Linked DNA regions of Homo sapiens: all the other regions are linked to region 1. Evidence: fine-mapped expression QTL. A gene starts in region 1. Each other region holds a variant in brackets. All regions are shown on one strand. Distances are between the middles of the regions.

What was found. PIP is the estimated chance that this variant, and not a neighbour inherited with it, causes the effect. A credible set is the group of variants that fine-mapping cannot tell apart.
Region 2: its variant is the best candidate, but not a certain one, in a credible set for the expression of FIBCD1 in nucleus accumbens (GTEx, PIP 0.54).
Region 3: its variant is the best candidate, but not a certain one, in a credible set for the expression of FIBCD1 in sun-exposed skin (GTEx, PIP 0.71).
Region 4: its variant is the best candidate, but not a certain one, in a credible set for the expression of FIBCD1 in whole blood (TOPMed, PIP 0.87).
Region 5: its variant is the best candidate, but not a certain one, in a credible set for the expression of FIBCD1 in lung (TOPMed, PIP 0.85).

What each region holds. Positions count from the first base shown.
Region 1 is chr9:130,936,085-130,941,181 of GRCh38, forward strand. FIBCD1 (fibrinogen C domain containing 1) reads right to left here and starts at 3,163. Exons shown (of 7, transcript NM_032843.5): 1 at 2,452-3,163. The coding sequence starts at 2,523. It overlaps FIBCD1-AS1 (FIBCD1 antisense RNA 1), which reads left to right and starts at 4,262. Exons shown (of 3, transcript XR_930398.3): 1 at 4,262-4,358. RefSeq lists an enhancer at 2,865-3,795 and silencers at 3,040-3,249, 5,018-5,097.
Region 2 is chr9:130,387,340-130,392,436 of GRCh38, forward strand. HMCN2 (hemicentin 2) reads left to right here. Exons shown (of 98, transcript NM_001291815.2): 62 at 1,070-1,201; 63 at 3,638-3,781; 64 at 3,865-4,024; 65 at 4,111-4,235; 66 at 4,596-4,779. Among named protein-coding and RNA genes, the nearest start is that of ASS1, 55 kb to the right of the region's middle. RefSeq lists enhancers at 1,072-1,605, 2,461-2,968. The variant T/C (reference allele first, on the strand shown) is at 2,055.
Region 3 is chr9:130,913,053-130,918,149 of GRCh38, forward strand. The region is part of intron 4 of FIBCD1 (fibrinogen C domain containing 1); the gene reads right to left. Among named protein-coding and RNA genes, the nearest start is that of QRFP, 19 kb to the left of the region's middle. RefSeq lists an enhancer at 1,253-1,945. The variant CAG/C (reference allele first, on the strand shown) is at 2,903.
Region 4 is chr9:130,990,867-130,995,963 of GRCh38, forward strand. No RefSeq gene overlaps it. Among named protein-coding and RNA genes, the nearest start is that of LAMC3, 16 kb to the right of the region's middle. RefSeq lists an enhancer at 4,222-4,778. The variant G/C (reference allele first, on the strand shown) is at 2,369.
Region 5 is chr9:130,903,316-130,908,412 of GRCh38, forward strand. FIBCD1 (fibrinogen C domain containing 1) reads right to left here. Exons shown (of 7, transcript NM_032843.5): 6 at 1,919-2,098; 7 at 1-1,008. The coding sequence ends at 749. Among named protein-coding and RNA genes, the nearest start is that of QRFP, 9.1 kb to the left of the region's middle. The variant T/C (reference allele first, on the strand shown) is at 3,174.

The DNA.
Region 1 (5,097 bases):
TTGCAAAACACACCAGTATGTCACGTGGCCCCCATAACAGCCCTTGTGAAATGAGGAGGAAGCGAAGATTGCTGTTCCCACTTTACAGATGGTGAAGCCCAGGCCCAGAGAGGAGGAGTAACTTACCCAGGGCCACACAGCATGTCAGTGGGTGAGACAAACCTGGCCACAAGGGAGGAGAGAAGGCTGGCCCAGGAGAGGGCAGGCCCAAGGGAACCAGGGCAAGCAGTGTTCTCTCTTTCTTCTGACAGTGGCCACAGGAAAGGCCTTGCCTCTTGTCTGAAGCTTCAAACAAGCCCAGAGCTGGCACAGGGAACAGCCTGTCTACATGCTGGGTCACCAAACGGGCGGGGAGGGGAAGCGGGTGCTTGCTATTGGCCCAGGCTCTTGGAGCAACAGCCCTCGAGCTTCCTCCAATGCCAAGGGGCAGACAGCTGGGCTGTGTGGGGGCTGAAAGCTGTGCCCCCAGGGAGCAGCAGAGGAAGGCGGGGCCCGGCCTGGAGGCCTTGAAGCCACATTTCAAACACATTCCCCAGAAGGCACCTCCCCTTGAGACAGACCAGTGCCTGCTGGCCGTCTCCTGAGGCTCTTCCTGGCCGAAGCGTCATGCAGTGCCATTCAGCAAACGCTCTCAATGCCTGACCTGAGCTGCCTGGAAAGAATGGAGCTTGGGCCCAGGGAGAGATGCAGAGATGGGCTCCAGAGGAGGGTGTGTCCAAAGGGATCTCCTGATGCAGGAGGGGCCCAGGACAAGGCAGCTGAGTGGCACAGGCTAAACACTACTAGAACTTAGAGACATAGCCACAGGGCATCAGGAAGTCTTCCTGGAGGAGGTGGCAGCATTTGAGCTTGATTTTGAGTATATGTAGGGTGTCCCTGAGTGAAGGGGTGTGTGTGTGTGTGTGTGTGTTTGTGTAAGGCTGGGGAAGCAAACAAGATGACACAGAAAAGATCTGGAAATGGAGCGGCGTGGTGTGGGGCCCAGGGTTGGCAAATAACAAACAGTCACTGCCTGTAAGGGACCAATGGGAAGGCACAGTATGCCAGGTTAGGGATGGCCTTGGAGGACAGGTCTAGAAGTTAAGACAGTTCTTGCTAAGGGGGAGAAGTCAGATCTCAGCAGGAGGGGACTTGTTATTTTGGGGTGGCTTAGGTGCAGACCTGACCTAAAAGAGGGGCGCGACCACCCCGGAGAAGCAGTGGGATAGGTGTGTGGTTAGACCAGAGTTTGAATCCCCACTCTCTTGCCAACGTGCTGTGTGACTTGGGCATGTTCCGAACCTCTCTGATCCCTGGTCTGTGATGTGGGAACGCACTGGCCCCCAGCCTGTTTGGAGAAGTGAGGTAGTGCCGATGAATGGGAAGGGGCTTTGCAAACCGCAGAGGGCTGGGCCCTTGTGCCACGGCAGTGTCACACCAGGAAGAATGAGCAGGTTGCAGCTCCTGAGAGGAAGGGACCACCAAGGGCTGCCCGTGCCGCCCCCTCCTGCAGCTGCAAGCACGAACTGTTCCTTCCCCAATGACATCTGTCTGGAAGAAATTTAAAATTTAAAATGGGCAGCCCTATTCTCTCCTCTCCTTGGTGAGCGAGCGGCCTCCTCGTTTTCGCCTGCCTGCCCCAGTCCCTTGGCAGCCCAGCCTGGGGCAGCCCTGGGGCTCCCCTCCGCCTTGGCTTCGGGACTCCAGCCCCCTTGCTGGCCAGCCCAGGTGTTCTGCCCTCACCCGCTTCCACCGCACAGCCCTGGGCACCCTCCAAGCCCCACCTCCACTGCCCCTGAAGAGGCAGCAGGAAGGGAGGAATGAGTCAGCCCTGGAGCACACAGACAAGGGTTCAAATCCCGACAGAGCTGCGTGGCCTCAGGCAGGAGCCAACCATCTCTGAGCCCTGCTTTCCTTGTCTTAAAGTCAGAAAATCACAATACCCAGCGTTCCTGCAGGAGATGAATCTTTATTGATCCCCTACTGTATGCAGGGCCCTGGCTAAAGGGAAGGATGCAGAGGAGATTCAGGGGGTCAGGTTCAGGACCAGGTGCCTGGCACAGGGTAGCGCCCAGAGTGGAGATTCTGTGGGTAGTTAAGATGCCCATTGTAGAGGTGAGGAAACGGAGACTCAGCAACGGGGCTGATTTGTCTGTGGACACACAGCGAACTGTAAGTCCCCGCCTCCCTCTGCACCCGCGTGCACCAGGGGGCTGCTGGGGGTGCGGGGACGCGGGAGACCTGGCCCGCAGCGCGCGTGGCTCCTGCAGGGGTGCCGCCCCCACCGAACCTCGAGTTCAAGCCTCGGCTCGGGGAGGAGGAGAGGAGGGTCCCCATCCCGGCCCGGGCCTCCGGAGCCTCGAAGGGGTGCGCCCCAAACTCCAGCCCCCGCAATGGGTGCTCGCCCCGCCGGCCCGAGCGGCCACCGCCTGGCCAGCCGCCCAGGCCCCGTGTCCCAGCGCCCGAGCGTACCTGCGGCTTGTCGCGCGGCCGGTCCTCAAGTTGGGCAGCGCCGCCCATGGTCTTCCACCGGTCGTTGACCATCTTCCGGCAGGACTGGCGGGGGCGCCGGGCGAGGCGCGCCGCTGCGGAGCGCAAAGGAGACGGGGTGGGCGCGGGCGCGGGCGCGGGGCGCGCTCTGTCCGCCGGGTCCCCGCCTCTGTGCCCCGCGCCGGGGCGGCCCGGGAGCGGGCGGGCGTGTGAGGATGAGCGCGCCGCTGTGTGCGGGCGGGAGCAGGAGCGGGAGCGCGAAAGCCGCCAGCCCAACGCCCGCCGCTCGCGCTGCGCGCCGTCCCCGCTCCCGGCTCCGGCGCCTCCCCGGCGCGCTCCTCTCTCTCCTCCCTCGTCCCTCCTCCCTCCTTCTCAATCTCCGCATCTTTTCTGGTCTCGGACTCTCTTTGCTTTTTATTGCTCCCCTCGGCCTCCCCCGACACACTCACACACACGCGCGCGCTCACACCCGCGGACTTGGATACTAAACTCCGCCTCCGAAAAGACCTAGGGAAAGGAGGCCGAACTGGCCCCCAGATAACGCGGCCGGCCGGAGGGCAGCAAACAGCCGCGGGCGGCCCGGCTCCTGCTGGCTCCCGGAGGGGCCTGAGAGCCCCCCGGCGGCGCCTCTGCACAAACTTCCTCCCGGACCGGACTCACACAAGTCACCATGCGCGGGGCGGGCCCCGAGGGCGCCCCCGCCGGCCGGTTCGGCGTCTCCGGGGAGTGGCGCGGCGCTCCTTCCGGCTCCCTCCCGGCTCAGGACGCAGGGCTCGCCCCAAGACCCAGGCTGCGCCGGGGGCAGTTTCGGTGGGGTGCGCCCCCTGCGGGCCCCCGAGGTCTGGGTCCAGGTCCCGGGGCAAGTGCGCCCAGCTGTGGGGTCTCCAGCCCCCGGGGACCTCCCTGCGCCGGACCCCGACGCGTGAGCCTGGCCGGTGGGCGTCCCAGTCCGCGTCCGCAGACCCGTGCCCTCGCGCCCGCGGTCGGAAAGCCCACACGACGCCCCCTTGCCCGGGCGGCCCGTGGGCGAAATGGGGGTCCCCACCACTGCCACAGCCGCCGGCGCTGTGGTCGCGAGTACCAGCCGCTCCGCGCTCGGCCGCGCTCCCGGCCGATCGCCCGCGCTCCCCGGCGCGCCCCGCGTGGTCCCAGCCCCCGCCTTCTCCTCCGCCGGGAGGGGATTTGTGCCAGGAGGGGGCTTCTTAGTTGCCCCTTCCCACCAGCAGCACTTTTAAAAGCATTTAATCCGCCCGGAGCGGCCTTCGGAGGTAATTGACAAAGTCCTTAATCTGCGCGGCGAACGAGCTGCTATTGTGGCTTCTGACCGGGAGGCGCCCACACTGCCCGACGCCGCGCTCCCCTCCCGCCGCCCCGCCGAGCCCGCCGGCCGCCCCTCCTCCGCCCCTTTCTGCGTCCCCATCTTTTTCTGCTCCCCCAGCTCCAGACAGACCCCCGTTCCCCGCCCCCGCTTCTCCCCAAAGCTGTTTTCCGGCTCCCGGGGCGCCTTGGCCGCCGCGCTGTTCCCTGGCACCGTCTCCGTCTCTCCCCCACTGGCTGCCAGTCTGTCGCCCCATCTTCGTCCCTCTCCCGATCCCTCTACGCGTCCGGCACTGGCGGGGCAGACTGGTTGGGGGTGGGGGCCGCGTCCAGCCTGGGCTGGGGCACTCCCTGGACCCCGGAGCGGGGGACCCTGTGGCCCGGTGCCATCCGAGGAGACTGCCACCCGCCAGGCGCTGGGTTCACAAACCACCGGCTGTTTGTCCCCAGCCGCCTTTTCCTTCCAGGACAACCGCTGGCCTCACCTACGGCCCGATCCCGGCTTCCCGGACTGAGGCTGCCCGGGAGTTGGAGAGGATCCCACAGCAATGGCTGGGAGTCAGGAGACCCAGGTTCCAATTCTGGCCTCTGGCCCTTTCTGGCCCCTCGGCCTTTCCTATGAATTAAGAGGGTCAGCAGGTGATCTAGAGGGCCCTCAGACTTGGGAAGAAGGATGTGGTGGAGGGCACAGGGCCCTGGCTGTGTGGCTGAGGGCAAGCAACATACCTCTCCGAGCCTCAGTTTCCCCATGTAAGCCAAAGGGTTGACTGCACACGCTTCAGAAGGGCTCTGCCACAGTGCATCACAGCACCTGAGCAGGGCAAGGCTCAGATGTTCCTGCTGTGACCTTGGGCAGATTCCACGTCATCCCCAAGCCTCAGTTTCCTCGTAAACAAGGACTTGCCTATTGGTGGGGAGTGGCGAGGTTTGCAGGCCCTTGTGCAGTTACAGGCACAAAGCGGGCAGGTGGCGGAAATGCAAGGCTCTGACTCCACAGTTTGGCGAGAGGATGTAAACTCCAGACGCATTTGTGCACAGATGAAAGATCACCCTGGGGGGTGGAGCGGGGGTGGGGGGCTGAACTGAGAACCCACGGGAGGGGTGCTAAGGACCAACGGAGGAGGTCTTGGAGATGTGCTCAGAGTAGTCAGGGAGGCATCCTGGGATGGAGGGGTGTGAGCCCGCCCCCAAGGCCCATGAAGGCAGCATCCAGAAGTCTGGGTGCTGAAGGAAAGGCATTTCCAATGGCGGGGCCGCAGAAGGGAAGGCGGAGCTAGGGGAGTGACCCGGGCGTACCTGGGCAGGTGCAAA
Region 2 (5,097 bases), 550 kb before region 1:
TGGGTGTCTAGGCTGGTGGGTAGCTCGGCTCCATGCGGTAGTTAAGGGACCCGGGTTCCTTCCCTCCTGTTGATCTTCCATTTCTTAGGGTGTTGTTCTTGTGCATATGGTTGAAACTGGGACACGGCATCGTGTCCTGGCCCACAGGAAGCAGAAAAGAGCAGAAGTGGTGGGCAAGCATTTATTTCATACAGAAGTTGCACCTGTCCCTTCTGCGTGTATTCCATTAGTGAGCGCTCAGGCAGCTGGCTGCAGGGGACACTGGGAAATGTAGTTTCTGCTAGAGTGATCGTGGGCTCAGCTAAAACTCTGCTATGCACAGTGGGAAGAACGGGCTGAGGGGACACCAGCCATCTGCCACAGATGCCAAAGCCAGTAGCCTCCCAACCAGGTGAGCGGTGGGCACATGCAACCCTGAGCCATACACAACACAATCGTTGAAAAGGACTGACAAGATGGAGTGCAGGGGCTCATGCCTGTAATCCCAGCACTTTGAAAGGCTGAGGCAGGGATGATCACTTGAGCCCAGGAGTTTGAGATCAGACTGGGCGACATAGTGAGAAGCTTGAATCTACAAAAAATAAAAAATAAAGTAACAAGAAAGGGACTGACACCAGGCTTGCTGCTCAAAGCTCCCAGCCCTTTCTGATGGCTACATTGATGAACAGTGGAAAGGGGGAATATCTGGTCCCTGAGGGCAAAGGCATTTCATCTTGAGCCTGGTTGACTCTGTTCCGCTGGTGGTGTCTGCCTGGGGTGTGTGACTTCATCCTGGCGGAGCAGGAGAGAGTGTTGGGATCGATTAGTGATGTCTGCCCTGGCACAGGTTAAGGACTGTGGGTGAGTGAGCCTCCCATTTACCATCCTTGGGCTAAGGAGACCCCGCTGGAGCTTTGCTTTGTATGCTTTAAAATAGCCAGGCACTGGTTCTATTTACATTTGTGAATAAAACATAGAATGGGAACTCCTAACTACCAGGAAGGGCTTCTTAGGCCTCCCTGATCTGCCTGAGGGGAAGGAAATTGGGGAAGAGTCTCAGAATTCTGACAGTCTGGCTTTCTTCCTGCAGTGCCCCCAACATTTGAGAACCCCAAGACAGAGACAGTGAGCCAGGTGGCTGGGAGCCCCCTGGTCCTGACCTGTGATGTGTCCGGGGTCCCTGCACCCACGGTCACTTGGCTGAAGGACAGGATGCCTGTGGGTGAGCACATCTGTCCTTGTCTGTTTCGCGTAAAGCATTCCTTTCTTTAATAAGATGACAGCAGAAGCGGACGAAGGAAGTTATTGGTTGTTGATGATCTTGGCAAAACCAGAGACTGGCAGTGCCGTGTTGCCCCCCCCCCCACCATTTGTGTTTGAGTGAAGCGTTGTTTATTGGCCCTTGGAATCCAAACATAAAGAGCGTCTCCTGTGAGGGTTTGGAAGCTCCTTTGCATCCACGTCCTCAGTCAGCTCCCATGAGACAGCAGACGTGGGCTCTCCATTGCGCAGGGCAGGTGCTGAGGGCCATGGAAAGCCCACTGGCTGACACTGGGCTCAGCATTGGCCCCCAGAGCTGCTCCTTGGTGGTGACTCAGCTCGGTCCTAGCTGGGCCGTTGGTCAACCCCATCCCCCATCCAGGCCTCCCCATTCTGGCCGCTGCTGTGCCCACCGTTCCTCCGCATGACGGCAGAAGCCCCACATGGTCTCCTGGGCCCACTGTGCCTCTCACGCAGGCTCCACGTGGGGCAGAAAGGTCTGAAGGTACAGCTCGGAGCTGGTCCCTTGTCTGGTGGAAATCCGTCCACAGCAGGGGCCGGCACTGCCAGCCACCTCTCCCTGCCCCTCCATGCGCTAAACGTGGCTGTGCTGGCTCCTCGAACCTGCCCCTCTCTCTCAGTAACAGCTTTATTGGGATATAATTCACACACTATATAATTCACCCACTGAAAACATCCAATTCAGTGATTTGTAGTACAGTCACAGAGTTGTGTGACCATCACCACAATCAAATTTAGAACATTTTTATCACCAAAAGGACACCCGTATCCATTAGCAATCACTCCCCGTTTTC[T/C]CCCCATTTCTTCTTCCCCCAGACCCAGGAAACCACAAATCTGCTTTCTGTCTCTGTGGATTGGCCTGTTCTGGGCATTTCACATTAATGGCATCATAGAGTGTGTGGCCTTTTGTGTCTGGCTTCTTCCACTTAGCGTGTTTTCAAGTTTCATCCGTGTTGTAGCATGGATCAGTACTTCATTCTTTTTTTTTTTTTTGAGACGGGGTCTCGCTCTGTTACCCAGGCTGGGGTGCAGTGCCACAATCTCGGCTCACTGCAACCTCTGCCTCCTGGGTTGAAGCGATTCTCCTGCCTCAGCCTCCCGAGTAGCTGGGATTACAGGCTCGCACCACCACGCCCAGCTAATGTTTGTATTTTTAGTAGAGATGGGGTTCCACCATGTTGGTCAGGCTGGTCTTGAACTCCTGACCTCAGGTGATCCACCTGCCTCGGCCTCCCACAGTGCTGGGATTATAGGCATGAGCCACCGTGCCCAGCCAGTGCTTCCTTATTTTTAAAAATTAAATTTTTCTCTTCATTCCCTTCTGTGGCTGAATATTCCATTGTGTGGCTGTGTCGCGTGTTGTGCATCCACTGGTCAGTTGATGGGCATTTGGGGTGGCTGCATCTTTTGGCTGAGATGCTCAGTGCTGCTGTGAACCTCCGTGTTCGTGTTTCTGTGTGGACCTGTGTCATCGCCTCTCGCGGGTCAGGTGGCTGCAGGCCCCACCTCCCTTTGCGTCCAGCTCTTGGCACATGTGTTCCCTGCCTGGAATACCCACCCAGGCTCCCGTGGTCACCTCTGCTCCCCCCGGCTGACTACTGCTCAACATTCACGTCTCAGCGGAGATTCACCACCTCTGGAAGCCCTCCCCCACCCTTCCTGTCCCCCAAGTTCCCCGGCTCCATCAGGGGCTCACAGGGCTTGTCAGCACTGGGTCCCCTTGTTTCATGGCCCCCACCCCCGATACATTGTGAACTCCTTGAGGACAGGGACTGAGCTGCCCTCATCTTGATTCCCAGGCTCTGCGCTGGACATGGGGCAGTTGCTCGTGTCTTTGTGTTGAGAGGCTGGCTGGATCCATGAGGATCTGGGCAAGGAGATCGTCCTGGGCTGGGGCCGTGAGAGATGGCTTTGGGCAGGGGTGTGGCTGGAGAGAATGAAGGGGGAGGCCTGAAGGCCGGGAGTGGGAGGAGCCCGAGCAGAGGCCCAGGGGGAAGCCCCAGTGTGACCTGTGTAGGGTCAGTGAGGGGCTGGTTTGACTTGAGCAGAAACCTTGATAGACAGGGGTAGAGGGGCAGGGCATGGAGGGAGAAAGCAAAAGCAGAAACCTTGATTGATGGGGGTAGAGGGGCAGGGCGGGGAGGGAGAGGATGGGAGCTGAGAGCTGGGCCTGAGAGCAAATCCTGGACACTGAAGGGAGGGGGTCCCTTGGGAAGAGCTGTCTCAAGTGGAAGGAAATGAGGAAGGCTTCTAAGGAACAGAGACTGGGCTGGGGAAGGTGGGGACATATAAGAAGGCGCCTCTGCCTCTGTGGGGCTCAGTTTCCTATGAGCACAAGAAGGGGCTGGGGGATTCAGGGGACCCCTCTGTCCCACAGAGAGCAGCGCGGTGCACGGTGTGGTCTCCCGGGGGGGCCGCCTCCAGCTGAGCCGCCTGCAACCGGCCCAGGCGGGCACCTACACGTGCGTGGCTGAGAACACCCAGGCTGAGGCCCGCAAGGACTTCGTGGTAGCAGTGCTGGGTAGGTCTGCGCCTGCACCCTCCTGTCCCACTCCCATGGCAGCCCCTGCCATCACCCAGGGCCTCACTGCACCCCTGCCTCAGTGGCCCCCCGGATCCGGAGCTCGGGCGTGGCGCGGGAGCACCATGTCTTGGAAGGGCAGGAGGTGCGGCTGGACTGTGAGGCCGATGGGCAGCCGCCGCCGGACGTGGCCTGGCTGAAGGACGGCAGCCCGCTGGGCCAGGACATGGGCCCCCACCTCCGGTAAGACTTGGCCCATGCCCTCCCCAGAGGCGGTAGGGCCCATGTTCCCTTACGCCTCTGCCCTGGGCCCTCCTTCCCTGTGGCAGGTTCTACCTGGACGGCGGCTCCCTGGTGCTAAAAGGCCTGAGGGCCTCGGACGCGGGTGCCTACACCTGCGTGGCCCACAACCCAGCCGGGGAGGACGCCAGGCTGCACACGGTGAATGTGCTGGGTGAGGAGCCCCAGGGCATCTGGAGGGTGATGCGTGGGCCTGGGCACGGGAGATAAGGCGACATGTGAGCAAAGCCCACACTGTGTCCTGGGCCACGGGTCTCACTTCCCTGGGCCTCCATGGCCCATCCTCAAACTAGAGGACAATAGTGCCAGCCCAGGGTATAGCGGAGATTCGGGAGGTGAGAAGAGAGTCAGGGAGTGGCTGTGTCCCCCATGCAGCGGGCCTCATCCTTCACAAGGGACCACTGTGGTTGCTGGCGGCAGAAGTCCAGGTCTCCACTTCTGGGATTTCCCTGGGAGGAGCCCACCTTCCTCCCAAGACCTCCGCACTACCCCTCTTTTTTCTACCCACCCTCAGTTCCTCCCACCATCAAGCAGGGAGCAGACGGCTCGGGGACCCTGGTGAGCAGGCCTGGGGAGCTGGTGACCATGGTGTGCCCTGTGCGGGGCTCCCCGCCCATCCACGTGAGCTGGCTCAAGGACGGCCTGCCCCTCCCGCTCTCCCAGCGCACCCTCCTCCACGGCTCTGGCCACACCCTCAGGTAGGGGAGACGGTGGACAGGCCTTGGCTATTCCACTCAGAGTGGACATGTGGGGATTGTCAGCAAATGGGAGGTGCTGGAAGCCAGGACTGGCTGCAACACCCACTCCCCACCCCACAGCGAGTGTGGACTGCGCCCCAGATGCTAATGCTAGGATGGGTCTCAGGGACCCAGGGAAGGGGAGGTGGTGGGGGTAGGAGGAGATGCAGGAGAAGTCAGGTTTCAGGGAAGGAGAGACCAACTGGGCCACAGGAGACGAGGCCTGAGGACGGACTGTTGGCTTTGGTGCTGTGCCTGTCACTGGGGACTGGGCAAGAG
Region 3 (5,097 bases), 23 kb before region 1:
AACGAGCGCCTGGGCTGCCTCTGTTGTTCATTTTAATAACATTCTTGATTTGGGAGTCAGGAATCCCATCGGTTAAATTGCTTTGAAATGAGTACCACGCTGGCCCGGGCCAGAGCTGCCTGGAGTATTTACAGGATCCGCTGACAATCCGTCCCAGCCGGCCTCCCCAGCCCTCCCAGCCCTCTTTCTGTTTAACAAGCTTTATTCTCCTTTATTCTCCCTGCTTTATTCTCCGAGGCAGCGCCCGCGGCCCGGCCGGCCTCCATCTGTGTCAGAGTCTGATGTGTTAGAGATCTGGCTGCGGCACCGGCGAGCTGCCAGTTTCATTACTAAGCAGCCTGATTTCAGTCGCTCGGAACTGCCCGGATGCCCGGTCTGACCCGAGGCGTCTGCCGCGTGAGCGTTTGCCAATGCTCTGAGCCCTGCTCTGAGCCCTCGGGGACGTGTCCGTCACGGCGTTTGGGCAGCTCTGACGTCAGGGAGCTGGAGGGAGATGACACCTCCTTTTTCGTGCTTTGCTACCTCAAACCTGGCCCAGCTCTGAAATCTGAAAGTCCTCAGGAGTGACCGGCTCGGGGTGGAAGGAAATTCGATCAGGCTCAGGGAGATCTGAGGAGCGGTGGAGAGCCGTATTGATGGCCGCATATTGGGACCCTGAGCACGCACCTTTTCAAAGGCCTAATCCTAGCAGAAGCTCAGGCACTCCCCTGAGAAGGCAGCGGGCAGTAGGAGCCTGTTTCCGCAGGAGGAGGGGAGCTAGAGGGACCGGCAGGCCCGAAGCCCCCTGGGATGCCTGGCTGGCATTGGCCGTCGGCTGGGCCTCTGCCCTGGGGACTGGGGACCTGGGCATGCTCAGTGGTGAAGGAGTTCCTGAAGGCAGGGGAGCCCAGTGGTTGTGGATCTGGGTTCCAGGGCCCCAGCTTTGCCTTAGAGAGCCCTGGCAAGTCCCCACACCTCTCCAGGCCCCAGCACCCACGTCTGTAAAGCAGAGATCACAGCCACGCCTTCCTCCCAGGCTATGACCATCCACCGAGAATAAGCTCAGGCCTGGCACATAGTAGGTGTTCAGCAAGTGCCAGCTGGGTGGCTAGCCACAGCACTGAGGCCCAGGCCTGGGCGAGGGCTCCTGCCTCCTCTGCTCCTCTCCCAGACTCTGGCCTCCACCCTCCCCCAGCCCTCCCGAGGGGTCTGTCCCAGCCTCTCATTCACACAGATGTTCCACCGAGCATCTCCTGCCAGGCACCAGCTGCAAAAGCCAAGTCAGTGGATACGAGGTCACGGTTCTGCCCTTGGGGACCTTAGGGCAAAGGAACAGAGGAGACACCCGTGCTCAGGGGACCCCAACCGTGCAAGAGGCAGGACAGACTTGGAGGTTGGGGAGAGAACAGGTCTGCCCAGCAGGGTGGCCCTGGAGGAGGGGCAGGGTCCTGGGCCCTGTGTCAGCCTGCTGGGCGGGGCAGAAAATGCAGGGAAGTAGGCCACAGTGCGGGTAGTGGGGAGACCCCAGCAGCCAGTGGGCGTGCCCAACCAGGGGCAGGTGAGCTGATGTACAGGTGCCCAGCTGTGCCTCTTCCTAAAGGCTCAGAGGAACCATCCAGAATGAGAGCAAGAAGCCCCGGTAGCCCAGACCACAGCCTCCGAGAGGATCCCCCAGGCTCTGCCTCCAGCGCTCACTCCCACCACTGGGACGCCTGGAACCAATGCTGCCATTTACGTAACTCGCCAGACCCCAGCCCTGCCCTGACTCTTCAGGATGTGGCAGGAGGGGCTGTTCCTGCCCCTGCGTCCCAGCTGATGGGATGATGGGCAGTCGAGACTCAGCTCGGGGGCTGCGTGCTCTCTGCGTGCCCATGTCCCTCCCCAAACCCTTTCCCCGAGCCCAGGCACCCCACCCTTACAGGGCCGAAGCTCGGACACTGGCCAGCGGCCAGGCGGCCGTGAGCAGCAAAAAGCGGGGGCCGACTACATCTTGTGCCCTCAGTCCCACGACAGTCTGGACCTACCCTTGCCACCAGCGCCTGAAGGCTAATGTCCTGACACCATGTCCACACTCGTGCTTGGTGGCAGGTCCACTGACCAGGATGGCTGTAGCCTTGAGTGTGCCCCTCTACCCAGGCTTCTGGTGCCAAGAGCTGGTCCCTGCACCCACAGTCCTCAGCCCCCTCTTTCCCACTGCCCTCTCAGTCTGGGTGCCAGTTACAGTGACCCCACCATCCCCCAGGGCTCCTCCTTGGTGCCGATCAATTGGGGTGAGCACACCTGGCCCCCTGCCTTTGCCTCTGCCCAAGGAAGGACACTGAAACCACATACGGCCGGCACTCCTGTCCAGGTAGCCCGAATCAACGCCCACTTAGAAACTGCAGCAATTGGCCAGGAGCGGTGGCTCACGCCTGTAACCCCAGCACTTTGGGAGGCCGAGGCAGGCAGATCTCCTGAGGTCAGGAGTTCGAGACCAGCCTGGCCAACACGGTGAAACCCCGTCTCTACTAAAAATACAAAAATTAGCCGGGCATAGTGGCAGGTGCCTGTAGTCCCAGCTACTTGGGAGGCTGAGGCAGGATAATCACTTGAACCCAGGAGGCGTGGTTGCAGTGAGCCGAGATCGCGCCACTGCACTCCAACCTGAGTGATAAGAGCGAGACTCTGTCTCAAAAAAATAAAAAAATAAACTGCAGCAACTGTCGGCCAACGTGGGCACTTTTAACGTGTGCAGTGACGGATTGCGGACCTGCTCTTAAGGCGCCAAGACACATCTGTGGTCTGGCCTTGAAGAAGTGACCTGCAGACTGACCATGTCCCAGAGAGATGCAGCCGACGTCACCACACAGGCACACGCATCCAGACTCCAGACTTAGCTTAATGCAGAAGGACGTGCATAGATATTTTCTTTTTTCTTTTGACA[CAG/C]AGTGTTACTCTGTCACCCAGGCAGTGCGGTGGCACGATCTCAGCTCACTGCAACCTCTGCCTCCCAGGTTCAAGCAATTCTCTGCCTCAGCCTCCTGAGTAGCTGGGATTACAGGCACCTGCCACCATGCCCGGCTAAGTTTTTTGTATTTTTAGTAGAGACGGGCTTTCACGATCTTGGCCAGGATGGTCTTGAACACCTGACCTTGTGATCCACCCACCTTGGCCTCCCAAAGTGCTGGGATTATAGGCGTGAGCCACCGCGCCCAGCCTTAGTGCACTGATATTTTCTATCATGTTCTATTCCACTCTATTTGATTGAAAAAATAATGTTGATCAAACCCATTCAGTTGATTTTGCCAGTGACCCACGGAGTACGCCCGCAGTTTGGGAACCACTGACAGCCTTTGCCACGGGCTGTCCTGATTTCTTGGTTCACACCCCAAGTGACTGCCTGTGCCGGGCCCTGTGCTAGGATCTCGGGCTTGGAAACCCTGCCCCGACCTCGAGCCAATGACAGCCCAACGTGGCCTGACTAGTGCAAGTGCCGAGCACGGCCCAGATCGTCAGGTGGGTCCTCCCAGCTTCCCGTGTGGGGGAATGTTTAGTCTGACTCTGAGCCCAGGATAAACTGCAGCTGTGGCTTTGTATTTCTGGCAAACAGCTTCAGCGACACTGGACCTTGGTGACGCCAGATGCCTGGATGTGGCCAAGCACAGAGGGCTTTAATTACACAGCGAGGACCAGTGGGATGGGAGGACAGAGGGAGGAAGTAAGGAAAGGATCCAGGCGTCCACTTCCCCTTCTTTCTGCCCCACCCACCGAACGTGAATCCCCACTAGGCAAAAAGGGGTGGGGAGTCTGGGCGCGGTGGCCCACGCCTGTAATCCCAGCACTTTGGGAGGCTGAGGCAGGCACATCACTTGAGGTCAGGAGTTCGAGACCAGTCTGGCTAATATGGTGAAACCCCATCTCTACTAAAAATACAAAAATTAGCTGGGTGTGGTGGCAGGCGCCTTTAATCCCAGCTACTCGGGAGGCTGAGGCAGGAGAATCACTTGAACCTGGGAGGCAGAGGTTGCAGCGAGCCAAGATCACACCACTGCACTCCAGCCTGGGCAACAGAGTGAGACCTCGTCTTAAAACAAAACAAAACAAAATGGAGGCGGGGAGCAAAAGGTAGGGAAACAAAAATTACTGATTCATTTTCAGGCCAAAATATGAATTGGTCCAGCTCCGGGGGGGCGTCTCTCTTGGGTCCCGGCTGGAAAACGATTGAGTAGAAACACTCGCCGCAGCCGCAGCCTCTTGGGCAGATGCCACGAGTGGGAAGACAGACAGAGAGTGTTTTCTTGGTGCGGATTCTCAGAAGCCCGCCGCCCGGCGCACCTTGGAAGTGCCGCTTAGAGGGGCTCTGCCAAGGGAGAGCTGGGCCCACATGGTCCTGCAGATGGTGCTGGGCGGGTTCAAAGGAAGGAGTGACGGCTCTGGACATGGAGGAAGGAGTGACAGCTCTGGACGCGGAGGAAGGAAGACAGCAGCAGCCACCGACGGCCCTGTGTTGTCAGATGGGGCCTGGGGACCGAGGGAGGCGGAGATGCCTCTGGGCCGCTGCAGCCTTACACTCCGCAGGTTGCATCCCGCCCAGGGCTGCCTCTGCAGACAGACCCTGACCAACCAGCTGCTGCTTTGCCACTGTGCCCAGAACATGCAGCTAGCGTCCTGAGCACTGAGCTGGGCTCTGTGGTCACCCTAGCACCCGGCCAGTGCCGTAGAGGATGACCACGGCCTTCCCCGCCACAGCCCTGGAGGGACGACTGGTGCTCCCATTAGGCAGATGAGAAGACTGAGGCTTGGAGGAGTGGGCAACCCAGGTGCGCAGGGCTGAGATGGCCAGAGGAGTGGGGATGAGAGTGCACGCTCAGTCCCAGGGAGCTCCCTGGGCTGGCACCCAGGAGACCTGAGTTCTACCCAGACTCCAGCCAACAGGATACGTGGCTTCTCCCCTGCAAAACAAGGGCTCCTGCACAGCACCCCGTGTGTGCTCGGGGCTCACAGGGATGACCTTGGCCCTCAAAGCTCACAGCCCCATGAGAGACGACGCACAAGCCAGCAGCCATAGGGCAGAGCAGCTCCCACCCTGGCACATTCCTCCAAACCCCAGGCTTCAGTTTCCTCATCTGTAAAGCTAGG
Region 4 (5,097 bases), 55 kb after region 1:
GGAAGACAAGGGGCTGCAGTGGGGAGGGTGCTCCGAGCAGAGGGAGCGACGTGCATGTGAAAGCTCTGGCAGTCCTCACATAGCTCCCCAAGCAGGGGGAGACCTAGCCGGACACTGAGGCTGTGGACTGTCCTAAATGGGGTTTGTCCTGGAAGCTGGGAGAAGTGGGGAAGGACAGGGCCAGGAGGCTGCTAAGAGAGTTGGAGAACTGGGTTTCAATCCTGCCTGACCCTCTCAGGATCAGCGATCTCAGGCAAAGCCCTCTGCTTCCCTGAGCCTCAGTGTTCTCATCTGCAGCCTGGGGGCAACGCCCCTCCCTCATAAGATCATCTTGAGGATGAATCTGGATGGTTTGTATGGCAGGTGGTGGGGACGGAGCCTGGCCCAATGGGGGTGAGCAGGAGGGGTCACCTCTCTGATTCTGACACAGCGGGGGGTGCCCCCTAACCCCACCTACTCTGAGTGGCCCCCATTTTTACCCTGTCCCGCGGAGGGTTGGGGGTTATACTGAATCCACCTCTCTGTCCCCCAGGGGCCTCCACCAGGCCGTGCCTCCTGGGCAGGCATAGACTTGGCAGCTTTACAGTTTTATTTTCTGAGCCCCCTCGCCTGGCCTTCACATCAGCCCCAGCAGGCGGCAGAAATTTCCCGCGGCCTATGCAGGGCCCCATTTGCGCATCGCCGGGAATGCTAATCGGCTCCTGGCGGTCCCAGGCGGAGAATCCCGCCTTTCCCTGACATTTGTAAAGTTCACGTTTTCAAAATAAAGCCACGTGAAGGGCGAGGCACTCGCAGATCACTTCCCTGTCACCGGCCTGCTGGCTCCTTCCCTGCCCTTGGCCTTCACTCCCCCGCTTAAAAGCCATCAGTCCTGGGAGAACAGCCACCCCCCTCCCCGAGCTTCGCTGGCCAGTTCCTTTCTCCCAGCCTTCTGCCTGCTTTCTGCCCTCCCTCCCTCCTTTCACACACTCACCCATTCACTTGTTCTTTCATTCTGCACTATTTATTGAGCACCTAGTGCACATCCTTCCTGGGTGTATGTCAAGGACACAGCAGGAAGCCCCAGGATTCTTGTCCCCAGGAGCTGACAGTCAAGTGGGAAAGAGGGACATGAAATACTCACTTAATGACAAGTGTGAGAAATGCCACAAAGTTGGAAGCAGGGGAGGTGTCACAGGGTTGGGGCACCAGGGACTGCTTCCCTGAGGAAGTGGCATCACCCCAGGCCTAGAGGAGGAGCAGGAGTCAGCCGCCACCCCACCCTGGCGAGAAGAGGCAGAAGGGCATTTCAGGACCCGCGGGTGCAAAGTCCTGGGATGGGGGGGCCAGGGATGCCTGAGGGTCTAGAAGAGGCCCGTGAGTTCTGGAGTCTTAGGAGCTTCAGCTCAAGAGATCCCCTTTACCCGAGGGGAATGGGGGCCCTGCAGGGTCGTGCCAGGCCCCTGGTGCGGACTGGGGTCCTGCTCAGGTGAGGCTCAGTGCACGTGGCGCTCAGATGGCCAGGCCCTAGGGCAGCCGGAGCTGTGCATGTGCCTCCCGTCCCTGGATGGGTTCTGCTGACTTACACTTGGGTTATAACTGGGTTCTGGTGACTTATAATTGCTGTTTCCTTGTCCTCAGCAGAAAGAGCTCGGAAACGAAATTATTGTTTAAGGACAGCCTCCCTGCAGTGAGAACTGCTGGCGAAGACCAGTGTCTTCCTCCTGCAGCCGCACAGCAGCAAGCGAGGCCGAGCTCATGGCCTGAGGGGGCAGACGGGCCACAAACAGACAAGCAAAAACATGCCCAGCAGGTGCGGTGAGGGCTAGGGGGGAAAACCCGCAGAGTGGCAGGGGAGTCCTGGGGAAGGTCAGCAGGAGGGTCTGGGACGGCCTCTCCATAAAGGGATGCAGAAGAAAGTGTGGGAAGAGCGTTCCAGGCACGAGGAGCAGCAAGTGCAAAGGCCCCGAGGTGGAAACGTGCTCTGTGTGATCGGGAAGGAGGCCCGTGTGGCTGCAGCCAGCCCAGTGGGCAAGGGGACAGGATGGCAGGTGTGGTCACTGAAACCAGAACTGGGTAGGGGGCAATCAAGTAGTGCCTCCTGTAGGGACAGTGAGGCCCGCAGAGCTGGGGCAGAGGCCGCTGGAGAACCCAGGGAGGAAAGGCTCTCATTTGAAGCAGCACACATTCACCCCTGACTCCCGCTTCATTGATTCACCATCATTCATTCACTCTCACTCATTCATTCCTTTTCTGTCCATTCTTCCGTCCACTTCCCATTCATTTGTCAGCTTTCATTCATCCCCTCTGCCTTTTGTGAGCATCTACCCTGCCACCTGCCCAGGGGAGGAGTCAGACCCACTCCCTGCCTGCCCTCAAAGGGCTCCTC[G/C]TCTGTGGTGGGGTCAGAGGTACAACAAAGCCCACTGTAGGGGCCTGAGGTGTTTAATCCACCCACGGGATGGGTTCCTGGATCCCTGGCCGGGCCCATCTGTGGGTGACACGTGGCACTGTGAGCTGTGGGGGCCGTATCTGGGCACTGGGCAGGGGGTGCTGTATCAGTGTGGACGTGGCTGCCAGCATTTTATAGGGAAGTGCCAGGCCCAACGGAAGCTGCTGGGGACCCTGGGTCCCCAGAGGAAGTGGCAGTGGGGGCCAGCAGGGGCCAGAGGCTGGGGCTGGAGCCTCTCACTGGTGGGGGGACAGCCTGGACCCCTGGGAGAGCCTTGGGAAAGGGAAGCCACTCTAGGCAGGCCTCAGAGGACATCCTTTGCTTCCCTTTATCATACAGATGGGAACCCTGAGGCCCAGAGAGGGGAAGGGACCTGCCCAAGGACACACAGCGTGGGAGGGGCCGAGCCAGGAGAAGTCTGGCCTCCTGGGTTCCTCTGGGCACAGAACTTCAGCACTGACAACGGCTTCCCCATCTCCCCCAGGCCTGCTCCTGGACCGGCGACCCTGTCTGAGCACAGCACGCCCACCCAGGGCCCAGCCAGAGACCCAGAGCCAGCCTCAGCTTTGCTCACCACCCCGCCAGCCCAACTGGGTGATTTTCTGTCCCCAGTGCCTTCTGGCACAGATACCCCCATGCCCAGGGGCCACAGTTTGCTTCCCGGGTCCTGCAGACCCCAGCTCCTCCCTGCTCCTGTTTAGGCTACCACCTCATTCTCCTCGGGTCCCTGCAGCAGCTGCCAAACCATTTCTGCTTCCACACCACCCCCAGCGGGCCAATCTCCCTGCACATCCCAAGAGAAAATCTTCCCACAGCTCCCCATGGCCCCCCGGTGAAGTCCAGGCTCTCCAGCAGGATGTCCTGGGCCCTTCTTGGCTCCCCTTTTCCACCCTCCCCACTCCTCAAATGCCCATCCTCCCACCCCCATCCTCCGCTTCTGAGCCTTTCACATGCTGCTGTCTGCCTGGGATGCTCTTCCCCAACCCCTTTTCCTGGATACTCCATTCTCCTCCAGGTCTCAGCTGAGACTCCACCTCCTCCAGGAAGCCCTCCCTGATCTCTCCAGACTGTGTTAGGCATCAGGTCTCCACTCTCACTGCCTGGTGCTTACAGCCTTGTGTTGTTATTAACAGCTTCTTGGATCCCTAAAGTGCAGGGACAGTTTCATCATTATTCATCACTCTGTCCCCTGTGTCCAGCCCAGGGCCCAGAGTGTGGGCTGAGTAAACATCTGTCCAGTGGATAAAGGAATGAATGAATGAATGGATAGATAACCACGTTTATCTCCTTTGTAGCCCAGCCTGTGGCCCCTGCACCACCGAGAAGGGGACATCCTTTATTCTTCTGAACCCCCTGAACTTGAAGGGCTGCCCAGGGCTGACTCATCCAGGCCCAGACCCACCTCAGGCTGAACACAGCAGGGAGGTTGAGACAGTTGCTAGACTGAGTAGTGACATGCCCTGAGGCCAGTCATGTCCCTTGGCCTGTCTAAATCTGTTAACTCTGTAGGAGGAGATGCTCCGTGAGGGTGACAGCTGAGGGGCCCCCTGTCAGCTCCCATCAGCTCCCTCTCCATCCTGCCTCCCATCTCATCTTGCAGGTCTCCAGTGAGCTGTCACCTCCTCTGAGAAGCCTCCCTGATTGCTCACCCCCTCATGGAGCTCATCCCAGCCCTGTGTCTATTTCCTTTGCGGCTCTTACCGTGATCAGTCACTAACTAATTCACCAGGTTGCTTCCTGGGTCACTGTCTGTCTTCCTGATTCTCTGGGGAGCACCATGAGGTCCCAGACAGTCTATCCCCTGTACCTCAGCAACCAGCCCAGGGAGGGCACAGAACAAATGTCCCCTAAAGTAATAGAATGAATGAATGGATGGATGAATGAATGAATGGAGAGCAAAGTGGAAAGGCGCACAGGCTCTGGGGCCGGGCACACTGGGGTGTGTACACGGCTCTCTGTTGCTGACGAGCAGAGTGGTCCTGGGCAAGGAGCTGTCTCTGGCTGGGCCTCAGTTTCCCTGTCTGCAATATGGGGAGAATAACAGTAACTACTTGTGGAGGTGGTGCACTCAGCCCAGGTCTGACTCCCAGGAGGCCTCTCAGGGGGTGACCTTGTCCTTGCTCAGAGGGGCAGGGCAGTGCCCAGGGATATGCTGCAATACAGACAGATGGGCGTGGGCCTAGCAGTGGGATCCTGGGGGCTGATGTCGCCAGTTGCTAACTTCTTTCTTCCACAGTTGTCCACAAGCCCTTGGCAGACCTCCCAGTTTTCACTTCCTGCCCTTGAAGCCTGCCTGCAGAGCAAGTGATGTCTCCCCACCGAACAGAAGGGAAGATCGAGACCCAGGCATGCGGACAGAGAGCACAGGCTTAACAGAGCCTCTGAGCCAGACCTGGCATCCTGGGAACCACCTAGACCAATGCTCTTGCTGTCCACATGGGGAACTGAGCCGCCCTAGAAGGGCAGAGCCCCACCCAAGATACCACAGTGAGTCTGGGCTCCAAAGCTGCAGGGTGGGGGCAGGGGGAGCTGCCTTTCCCCTCTGCGCTGTGCCCCCAACGCTGGGCTCCAACGAGGCTGCAGAGCTGTCAGGAGAGATCAGCAGGGCCCTGGCCGATCTCCCCAGATTTAATTAACAGGCCTTTCATCTCTGTCCTGAAGGAATCAGC
Region 5 (5,097 bases), 33 kb before region 1:
GGGGATGGGTTGGGCCTCATTTGAGACAGAGAGCAGGTGGGCACAGCAGGTAAGAGGACTGCAGACCCCAGGCCTGCCGGGGCACAGGGTGGGTGGCCTCCAGGGAACTGGTCTCAGCCTTGGAGCGTGGGTCCCCAAAGGCAGCAGCTCCCCATCCTGACCTCAGGGCCTGGTAGGATGGGGCCACCCAGCCCACAGCCAGGCTGAGGCCCTTGGGGGAGAGGTGGGTTCTCTGGGCACCAGGGAAACGGGGTGGGGGTTGGCATTGGGAGGGCTGGAGGATACTGGCCTCAGACCTGACCTCAGAGAGACCTGACGTTCCCCACGATCTGCTAGGAGGACTCCAGGGGTGCTGTCTGCCCCCTGCTCTCTGTCCCCATAATGCCGGGTATTTGGCCGGGCAGGGCAGAGGGTGCCTGGGGCAGACTCCACCATCCTGGCCAGGGGACGGCAAACAGCACCGGAGTCACAGTGGGGGCAGGCAGGAGTTGGGGTCGTCAAGTTTGCCAGCCCCCATCAGCAGAGGCAAGAGATCAGTGAGCTGCCAAATGGAGGGGGTGGGGACGGCGAGAAGGCGATGTGTGACTTCACCGGCCCAGGGAGCTTCGTGTCAGGGATGGCCCGGCCCCTCCCTACTGGAGAGTGGGTCCGCCAGGCACAGGTGGGTGGAGAACATTCACGAAAGAGTGAGGTGGGGTCGGGGATGGGGCGACAGGGACCAGCAGGGCCAAGGACAAGGTGCACCAGTCTAGCGGTCCTCCCGGACCGGCCGGATCTTCATCTCAGAGAACTTGAGTGAGTACTGCCAGCCGGTCCAGGAGGACCACTCCACGCCGTCGGCATAGGAGGCGTGCGCACCGCGCAGGTACTGCCCATTGAGGTTGGACGTGTGGCAGTTGCGGTACCACCAGGCACCGCGGTAGAAGGCGGCACAGTTGTTCTCTGAATGGTCGCTGTCACGGTCCTTGGTGGTGAACCTCATGCCGCTGTGCTTCAGGAGGGAGTCGCCTGCGCAGGGGTGCACACAGGTGTGGGCACGGGGGGCACGGGTACACCCACTGGTGTTGCATGTGTGAGCAGACACCGAGACACTGCACGTGCACCTGGACGTGAGTGCATACACGTACGCACGTGCTCTCACACATACTGCTGTGCACGCGTGCAAGCGCACCTGCCCCTCCACACCCGGGTGTGTCCATGCAGCTCACACGCACGCAGTCCCTTCTCGGGCGTGCCTGGGGCTGCCCCTGGGTCTAGGCGGTCTCTATCCCTCCCCCCAGCTTTTCCACATTCCCTCTCCTGCCTCCCCGCTCCTCGGCCTGAGAGGGGAAACCCAGCCCAGGGGGGTCCAGCCACCACACTTTAGAGACCCAGCGGACCCGAACCCCGGGTCTCCTGATTCCTGGCTCTGGGCTCAGTTTCTTTATCTGCAAAACGGGAAAACAGTCCAGGCTCTGCTGGCTTCGCCTTGCAGGGGTGAGGACCAAGCAGGACTTGGAGGAGGAGGCAAGCAGCCTTGACCCTGACCCCAGAGGGCCGAAGGGCATCATCAACACTATTATGAAAAAACGAACAGAAGATTCGCAGAAGCTCATCTTTTATGACATGCAACTGAATCAACTGATGAAGACAAGGACTGAGGGATCCTTGGTAAGGAAGAAAATTTTCCCTTTTCTGTCTTGTTTACTCTTCCAATTTGAAAAATTTATTACTTAAAAAAAATTTAGATTGGTTTCAGGCCTCTGATTGTGATGTGGGGTTGGTAGTTTATCAATATTTGTTATTTTTCAAAAACCTGATTACTTTCAAAGGGGGAAAAATACATTAGCCTTGATCATTTTGGAGGGCAGGACCTCCTCCGTCCTCCATCCTCCCAGGCCGCCCCCCTTCCCCATCCCTGCCACAGCTGGAGCCTCACCTGCAGTGCCGGAATAGTCAGCCACGGTGAGCGGGTACCCGTCTTCCTCAGGGTCCACGGAGAACAAGCCCACGCCGAAGCTCCCGTAGCGGGCATAGGCCGTGCCATTCTCAAAGTCCTCCAGGTCCACGTGCAGCTCGTAGGCAGCCTGTGTGGTCAGGGCGTGGATCCTCTTGAGCCCTGAAGTTGGGGGGAAAATGGTGGGAGAAGCTGAGGGGCGTAGGAAGCGACTCCCCAGGGAGAAATGATAAATGACAGCTGAGCTCATGCAGTTGGGGACAGAAAGGGACAACCACCAAGTGCGTGCAATCAGCCCTGGGCTACTTCCTTCTTCCTGCAGGCCTGTGTTGGGCAAGCCACTGAGGACCGACAGTTTTCATGTTTGGTTTTCTCTGTTCCCTTTAAGTGGAGCTGTGATGCTTTTCAAACGTTGGGGCTCTGAGCTGGTGGGAAGACTGCAGGAGGCGGGAGGAGGTGGGGGTGACAGCACCCTTACCCAGACTCCAGCCAGAGCCAGACAGACAGGATCTGTGTTCGCATTTTCCTATACCTGGCCTCTGGGCCTTTGCACATGCTGTTCCCTCTGCCAGGATGCTTGTCCCTACTCCTCCTCACTTGGTTACCTTCTATTCATTTCTGGAAGGCTGCCTGACCTCCTGTCGGCGTTGAGGACCTCCTCTGCCAACACATGTGCCCCTGTGGGTATTTATCTTTCAGGGTCCCGGCTGCCTATCTTGTCAGTTTCCCCACCAGTGCGGAATTCCCGTGACAGTGGCATGTCCGACCTAGCCACTGCTGACCCCAGTGCCTGGGGTGGGGCCTGGCACAATGGTGCTTACCCAGCGCTGGCTTAGTGGATGGGAGGGAGTTGGCGGCACCCTCACCCCTCTAGGCCGGCTCTGTGCCCCCATCCTACTCTCTCCCTCCTGCTGTCCCCGCCCCACCTCAACTCTGCCCTGCCCATCCCCGGGGTCTCATGCCAGGCCTCCCCTACCATACACATACGTGCTCAGACTCCCAAGATGCTTCACTGCTGGTGTGGTTACTCTTGATTAAGAGGGCATTTAATGAAATGTTTCACAAGTTAGTAGCAGCGAGTGGTATTCCATCCGCTTCTCCCTCCTGCCTGCCTCTCCCCGGCTCCGCACCTCCCGGGGTCAGTGTGTGCTGGCTGGAGGCTGTGCGGATCCTCCCCCATCCCGCCCGGACAAGAAGCCTTTGGTCCCAGTCACCAGGTCCAGGGACCAGGAGCAGC[T/C]ACTGTGGGAGGAGTCACAGCAAAGCTGACCGCACGACCCACGTTCCTCCCCAAGGACCTGCCAGGGCATGGGCTTTGACAGCCTAGGGTCTCACCCAGGGTCCCCACCTCCCTGACTCTCCTGCTGCTGAGTCTCAGGGCAGCCGCTCTCCCTCTCTGGGCCCCAGCTCGGCTGGCGCAGGGCTGATGTGAGGGGCCAGGAGAGTGTCATACACAAAAGGGCAGGTGGGAGGTAATCATGACAACAGCCGCCACCTGGACGGCACTCGCAAGGGCCCAGCACCGTTCTCAGCCCTTCGTGCAGATGAGTGAATCCAGTGGAATTAGAGTGAGTCTAATTTAATTACAGAATCCCTGGGCGGCTCTTCTGGCAGGGCTGGCCCGCTGCACACATTATCCAGGTGCTGACTGCTGCTTCCCAAGGCCCCGGGGAAGGAGTGCCTATTACTACCTATTTTATAGGGGAGGAAAATGAGGCCCAGGGAGGTTAAGGAGCTGGCCCAGGTCACGCGGCTGCTGAGTGGCATTGCTGGGATTTGAACCCAGGCAGAAGGGCCCCAAATCCCTGCTGCTATTCAGACCTTACCCAGAACAAATCAGATGATGCAGGAATAGGGAGAGAGGGAGACCGGCCCCCCGGGGATGCTGGAAGATTCCTTTTCCCACCACTAATTGGCCATTGGCACCCAAAGGCCACCATTAGCCACTCCTCTGGGTTGAGTGACAATTCATGAGCGGTGTCCCGGGGGCTGCTAGGCAGGACGCCCGAGGGAGGGGTGGGTGGGGACCTGGGGCCTGGGTCCTCTCCGTCCTTCCTCCAGTCCACGCCACCTCCTCCCTCCCTCGCCTCCCTGCCCTTGCTCTTTGGCTTTCTCCAGCTCTCCCAGCTTTTCCCTGGCCTTCCAGGACCGCTCCCAGCCACGTTAGCTGTTCTTCCCAGATTCCCTGGGCCCCTGATCCAACTCCTTCACCAGCTCCCGGCTCAAATCGCCAAGAGCAAGAAACAGGGCTGATGGCTTGAAACAGACAGGAAACCACTAAGACCCTAAACTTCACATGTCCACCCCAGTGGACTTCCAGCTGGACTAAAGCTGTCAACCTAAAACAACACTAGAAAAACAGAAGAAAAGCCTGGGCGCGGTGGCTTACGCCTGTAATTCCAGCACTTTGGGAGGCCGAGACGGGCAGATCACGAGGTCAGGAGTTCGAGACCAGCCTAGCCAATATGGTGAAACCCCTGTCTGTACTGAAAATACAAAAATTAGCCGGGCGTGGTGGCGGGCGCCTGTAATCCCAGCTACTTGGGAGGCTGAGGCAGGAGAATCGCTTGAACCCGGGAGGTGGAGGTTGCAGTGAGCTGATATCATGCCACTGTACTCCAGCCTGAACTACAGAGTGAGACTCTGTCTCAAAAAAAAAAAAAAAAAGAAAGAAAAGAAAAACAGAAGAAAAAATAGAGGAGACTTAAAAAAAAAATAAAACTAGGAAGGGAAGGAAAGGAAAGCAGGGGCTAAAACCCAGAAAAGATACAAAGAAAAGGGTGGCAGAACTGAGTGCATAAACATCTTAAATTTCTAGGAAATAAATAATAACATGACCCCACAAAAGAAAAAGAAAAAGCTGAAAGACAAATGGCCAGAAGTTAATACCTATCATGTGTTGGACAAATGATCGGTAACCTTAATATATAGAGAGCTTCCATGACTCGATAGGAAAAGACAAAGCACTCATTGAGAGGGGATGGGGAGGGTGGTGCGGCAGAGGAGGGACTGGCGCTGTTGACATTCCTGTCAGGGCTCGTCTGCAGGATGCTGGAATGAGGACCTGCTTAAATGCTTCCTCCCGCATCATCTGCAGCTGCTGATAGATTTCAATTAAGATACCATGAGCACGGGCATCACCGCTGCTCCAGGGGGTGGGTGGT